Homo sapiens: one gene and its partner. The protein of the gene in region 2 purifies or fractionates together with the protein of the main gene of each other region. This does not show direct contact. Each region holds a gene or a part of one and is shown on either strand. Other genes may lie near its edges.

What was found.
Region 1: the proteins of ELF4 (region 2) and NT5C2 purify together in Homo sapiens (affinity purification with mass spectrometry; one large-scale study listed by BioGRID and IntAct). This does not show direct contact.

What each region holds. Positions count from the first base shown.
Region 1 is NC_000010.11:103,089,906-103,092,272, forward strand, and holds part of NT5C2 (cytosolic purine 5'-nucleotidase), read right to left. Parts: intron 1,711-2,367; coding exon 1,659-1,710; intron 1,092-1,658; coding exon 1,031-1,091; intron 883-1,030; coding exon 706-882; intron 318-705; exon of another isoform or gene 4-317; coding exon 1-3. UniProt on the Homo sapiens protein: Broad specificity cytosolic 5'-nucleotidase that catalyzes the dephosphorylation of 6-hydroxypurine nucleoside 5'-monophosphates.
Region 2 is NC_000023.11:130,065,498-130,068,997, forward strand, and holds part of ELF4 (ETS-related transcription factor Elf-4), read right to left. Parts: intron 2,029-3,500; coding exon 1,224-2,028; 3' UTR 1-1,223. UniProt on the Homo sapiens protein: Transcriptional activator that binds to DNA sequences containing the consensus 5'-WGGA-3'. Transactivates promoters of the hematopoietic growth factor genes CSF2, IL3, IL8, and of the bovine lysozyme gene.

The sequences.
Region 1 (2,367 bases), on a different chromosome or scaffold from region 2:
CATCTAGACAGAAAAAAGCTAGAGGCTCAGAAAGCAGGCAGAGCAAAGTAGCTACTCCCCAAATCCTAACCCCTCTCCTCTGTTAGGTGGCCATGCAATTACATCTATAATGGACCACAGGACAAGTCAATATAGACTTATCTTCATAGAACTACTTATAGTTGCCTGTCTTCCTCTCTCCCTGCCCCTCAAAATGGTGCCCATATTGTCTACTGCAGCTGGAAATTGGAAAAGATGGAGAGGGGAGTTTACTTTCTATTTTACAGCAAAAACAAGATAGTCCTGAAACAGATCAGAATAAAGGAATGTAAAAACCACATTTTCTTTTTCTTGAGATGGTCTCTCGCTGTCACCCAGGCTGGAGTACAGTGGAGCAATCACAGCCCACTGCAGCCTCGACTTCCTGGGCTCAATCAATCCTCCCACCTCAGCCTCTAAAGTTCTGGGGTTACAGGCATGAGCCACCATGCCTGGCCCACATACAGCTTTTAATAGAGTAGACTTCAGAGAGTAAAGTTACACTCTTAACTTCCAATGTTGGTTCTACTTTCTCAAAGACCCCTTCTTATGCAACCATATAACCTGCCCCTGGGCTCTGTACATCAGAAAGAAATGTTCAAACTATCTCCTGTGCCATCTCACAAAGGTGGTTGCTGACCCTGGGCTTAGAGTACATCTTGGCTGTCCATTACAGCTTTAACTCACCAAGACATGGGCAGCCCTGAAGAGGTAGCTGAAAGGGTAATACAGCAGGTTGATGAAAGATGCTGCATAGAGGTCAGCATAACGCATCACTTGACTGGCAAAAAGGGTCTGCCGGGAGCCACTGCGAAACAGGCTTCCCATCATCCCATAGCACATGTCCATGTCATGAGTTACTTTCTAAAACAAAGAACAAGATTGATTCTTGGCTCATTCAACAAATATTTATTGAGCAGTAGTTGAATGCTAGTCTCTATAATAAATCAGGAATGTGAAAAAAGCATTTAAACTTATTTCCCAAGTTTTCTCCCAAATCCCATTTGGATACCTTAATACGTCTCTGGATGGAACTGATGTCTGGACGCTCATTGCTACTGCTGTCAAGATGCCTAAAGATAAAAGAAAAACTCAGTGAAAATCTCTGGGAAGAGCTTTTTTTTATTCTTTAAGACAGTCTCATTCTGTCACTCAGGCTGGAGTGCAGGGGTGTGATCGCGGCTCACTGCAACCTCTGCCTCCCAGCTTCAAGCGATTCTCCTGCCTCAGCCACCCTAATTAGCTGGGATTACAGGCATGTGCCACCACACTCAGCTACTTTTTGTATTTCTGGTAGAGATGGGGTTTCGTTTGCCATGTTGGTCAGGCTGGTCTCAAACTTCTGGCCTCAAGCAACCCGCCTGCCTTGGCCTCCCAAAGTGCTGGGATTACAGGCATGAGCCACTGCGCCTGGCCTGGAAAGAACTTTTTTTTTTTTTGAGACGGAGTTTCACTCTTGTCGCCCAGGCTGGAGTGCAATGGTGCAATCTCAGCTCACTGCAACCTCCATTTCCCCGGTTCAAACGATTCTCCTGCCTCAGCCTCCCAAATAGCTGGGATTACTGGCCTGGAAAGAACATTTCTTATATCTAAGTGATTCCTGAGTAAGTTTTTGGGAAAGAAATTTTTAGAAAACTTACTTGTAGAGTTCAGCCAAGAAAATATCCAAGCTCTGAAGTTCTTCGAAAAGTGCTAGTTAAGGTTTGGAAGGAAAAGGAAGACATTTTAAATAAATAAGCACCTAGTTCTTAACTGCTGCTAAACTAAAAGGTTGCAGATGTGACTGGAAAGTAGAACCTGGGACTAACATGCTGAGTGTACAGTTACCTCCTCTTCCCCTCTTCAGGATAACTCACTGATACCTGCTTGGAGTCTGACAACAGATGAACACCATCACCTTCTCTTTAACTGCCTTTCCTCCTGCTTAAACACCATGATGACAACTTTCCCTTCCAGCTGCACGCTCATTCTGAGCTTGTAAAGTACCAGAATTTACATGCTGTCTCAGGTGCAGTCAGCTAAGCAAATGTTAACAGTCCCATTTTCAGATGAAAGATTGAGAATCAGGTGACTTTTCCTGAGTCACAGGTCCAGGGCCAAATCAACTAGATTTCTAAAACTTCATAGGTAGAAAGTTGAAAATGTGAATGAAAGGCTAGCCAGAAAATCCCACTGATAGTACAGACAGTAACAGCAACAGCCAGCATCTACAGCATGCTGCCGGTGTGTTGCAGCCTTTGTCAGTCTGGGTTCCTCAAGACAAGCCCTCCTTCATCTACTGTATGTAACACATTTTCTTCTATCTACCATCTTTAGGAGAATTGAGAAAAGTGTTACTCAAATAATTTT
Region 2 (3,500 bases):
TGCAGTCATCACAGAGGCAGGCTGGTCCGCCTTCGAGGTGAGTTGCAGGCAGGCTGAGCAGCAGAAACCATGTGGTAGGTGCCCATGCTTGAGCAGGAATGGGGGTGGACCCCATCTAGGTCGCTGCCGGACTAGCCGCAGTGATGCCTGACAGCTGGAAAATGTCAAAAAGTAATCAAGAGGGAGCCCAGGATCGGGGAAGTAGGCTGGGGTGTCAGCAAAGGCTATTGTCTGGCGGGGGGCCGGTATCACACAAACAGCCCAAGCCCTAGGCACAAATACTCAATGAATTCAGCTCTGGGGGCTTTGTGGCTAGCTCTGAGGCTGGAGGGCACTTCATCCCCGTCTAAATCCTTCAGCAAAGCACTTTGGGGTGGCCCAAGATTCCAGCCTGACTGCAAGGTGACTGTGGTTGCTAACACGGCAAACTCCAGGAAGAGTACCTTGGTCCAGCCAGTGAGGGCTGCTCCCAGAGCTGACTTCCCTTCCCTCCCTTCGTGGTTTTACCCCACTCGGCCTTTGTGTCCCTGAGGAGCGCATCTTCCCCAATGTGCATGCGCATCAAAGCGTTCCTACTCTGCACTCGTTCCAGCTCTACAACATCTCCAGATTCGGAGGATCAAACTTGTACCCCATAGTCTCAGAGCAACTGAATCTCGGCATGAACAAAGGGAATTAGAGAATGCTTTCCCTTAAAAACAAAATCCCTATCCCTGTGGCTGATCCACGGAGACATACACACACCCTTGGAGACAAGACCTCACAGCTACAGCCCTGTCCTCCCCAAAGAAACTAAGATACAGACCAACAAGTACACACAAGTACATACAGGGATATTCACATATAGGGTAGTAAATTCCCTGTGTAGGGAATGCAGCCAGTGAGATAGAGCCAGGTAGAAGGGCTCTTCTCACAAAGCTGCTGCACAAACCCTGGCCACAAACTTCTGCCTGGCTCAAGGCTTTTTCCCTCCATCACCAAGTCAGCCCGTTATGCTGCCAAAAGCATATGCCCTAGTGCTCTTGAAGGCCATAGTCTGATGCCAGGGATGCTTAAGCTGGGCACTGTTTGGCCACAGTGACACCAGGCAGGGCCGGGGGACTTGGGGTCAAGTGTATTGACATCCCACTGAAATGCAGGGGCAGGTGTGCTACTGAAGTCGGTCCCTATGAAAATGCTGCTCAATTTTGCCTGGTGGGTCACACTTGCCCTGACCCCTTTGCTTATATGTCATGGGGCTCCATCTTAATGAGGGAAGTAGGGTTGAATGGGGAGAAAGGGGCTGGGGTGGGGGATCTTGTCAGAAGGCTCCCAGATGTGGTCACACTAGGCTCAGCCATCAGCAGGGACCCTGAGCCTGAGGAGAGCTCAAGTTCAGCCACTGGGGTCAGCCCAACAGTGGGGCGGCTGGGAGGAGACAAAGTCTGGTTGCCCAGAAGGCTCGGATTGTGGGAACCCCTGGAAACCACCTGGGTTGGAAGTGGCTGAAGATGAGCCTGATCTCTCAGGAGCTCCCTCAGGGTCTCTTCAGGAACCAGCAGCCCCTCCATGGGGGCCCCCGTCACCATACCCTGAACATAGGAGGAGGACCTCAGTGGCCCCTCCTTGACCCTAGGGGCTGCTGTAGTGCCAGAAGTCCTGATGAAGGCAGCAATGACAGTCCCAGGGGGCTGAGAGCTGGGCCCTGCTGGTCCAGCCCCTGTGACCGTGGGTGGCGCCGGGTTGGTCGGACGGTTGGCCCCAGCCAGAAGTTGGGGGAGGCCACTGAGAATCAGTGGAGCCCCTGGGGCTGCCACCTGGCTGTCTTGGAAACTGGCGTTCAGGGGGAAAGAGGCCTGCAAAGTGAAGGTGTCCTTGAAAGTAGAGGCCGCTGGAACACTCTGGAGAACGAGCTGAGTGGGAGCAGTAGTACTGGCAGGAGGCCCATTGGTCAGCACCGTGGTCAGTGGGATCGTCTGCAGGGTCAGGGCCGAGCCCGACCCCACGGGGGCCACTCCTAGGTGGATGTTGCTGGGCACTGAAGATGCACTGAGAAGAAACAGAGAACAGAGTTGGTTAAGGCAGGAAGTGTCCCTCAGCTGGTTAGGAAGGAGGGCACGAGAGGAATGGAGCTGAAGGTGTTTGTCGATTTATTTGCTGTTTGTTGTTTTTTTCTTTTTCTAGAGACAGGGTCTCACTCTGCTGCCCGGGATGGAGTGCAGTGACACGATTACTGCTCACTGCAGCCTTGAAGCCCTGGGCTCAAGCGATCCTCCTGACTCAGCCTCCCAAGTAGCTGGGACTACAGGTGTGTGCCACCACACCCAGCTAATTTTTAATTTATTTTTTTTTTTGAGACGGAGTCTTGCTCTGTCACTCAGGCTGGAGTGCAGTAGTGCAATCTTGGCTTACTGCAACTTCTGCCTCTGAGGTTCAAGTGATTCTCCTGCCTCAGCCTCCCAAGTAGCTGGGATTATAGGCGAGCACCACTACACCCGGCTAATTTTGTATTTTTAGTAGAGACAGAGTTTCACCATGTTGGCCAGGCTGGTCTTGAACTCCTGACCTCAGGTGATCCACCTGCCTCGGCCTCCCAAAGTGCTGGGATTACAGGTGTGAGCCACCATGCTCAGCTGTAGCTCACATTTATTAAGTACTTAGAATAGGTATATAGGTCAGGGATCATTCTAAATGATTGACATGTGGCATTTCACTCAATCCTGAAAACAGCCCACAAGTGGGATAAGAACAATCTGATTTTACAGCTTGAGGAAAGTGAGGCACAGAGAGGTTATGTATTAATAACTTGCTCCAAGACCAGCCATACCTATGTTATCCTTTGATTTCTTCCAAGTGGGGATGCTGGGGTCTCACAAGGCCTTGATGTGAGTCCCCGCTCTAGTGATTACACAGCCAGTATACATAGTAAGCACTACAGCAGGGCCTCACAACTAGGTCTTGTGATCCCAGAGCTCATCTTCCTCACCATTCCACTCTACTGCCTGCCCTCCTCGAAAGGGTGTCTCACTGCGCCAGCGTAGTGACTGCCTGCCCTCCTCGAAAGGGTGTCTCACTGTGCCAGTGTAGTGGGAGGTCCAAACACATAACCCAACAAAGTCCAACCTTCTCAGGGAAAATCGGAGGCCCCTTAGTGGGGATGAGAAGTAGTTGGAGCTAGCCGGGTGGGCCTGGAGGTCCCAAGGGGCTCACAGCAGGCAGCTCTAAAACATTCTCTGTTGCTTCTTTTCTAGAATGGAGGAGGCTTAGGAGGATGGGCCAGGACACGGACGCCCTGGTGGCTCCCTGGGGAGCCCCTCTCGTGTAAGCCCCCGGATGTGTGACCTCAGGCAAGTGACTTCCCCTCTCTTGACCAACAAGTGCCCTACTGGCTTTTCCATGGCTCTGGGAGGATCCCATGAGCCTGGCGACAGAGTAGAGCTTGGCAAGAAGTTGAAAACTGAGCCCTGCTAGGCACGGTGGCTCACATCTGTAATCCCAGCACTTTAGGAGGCCAAGGCGGG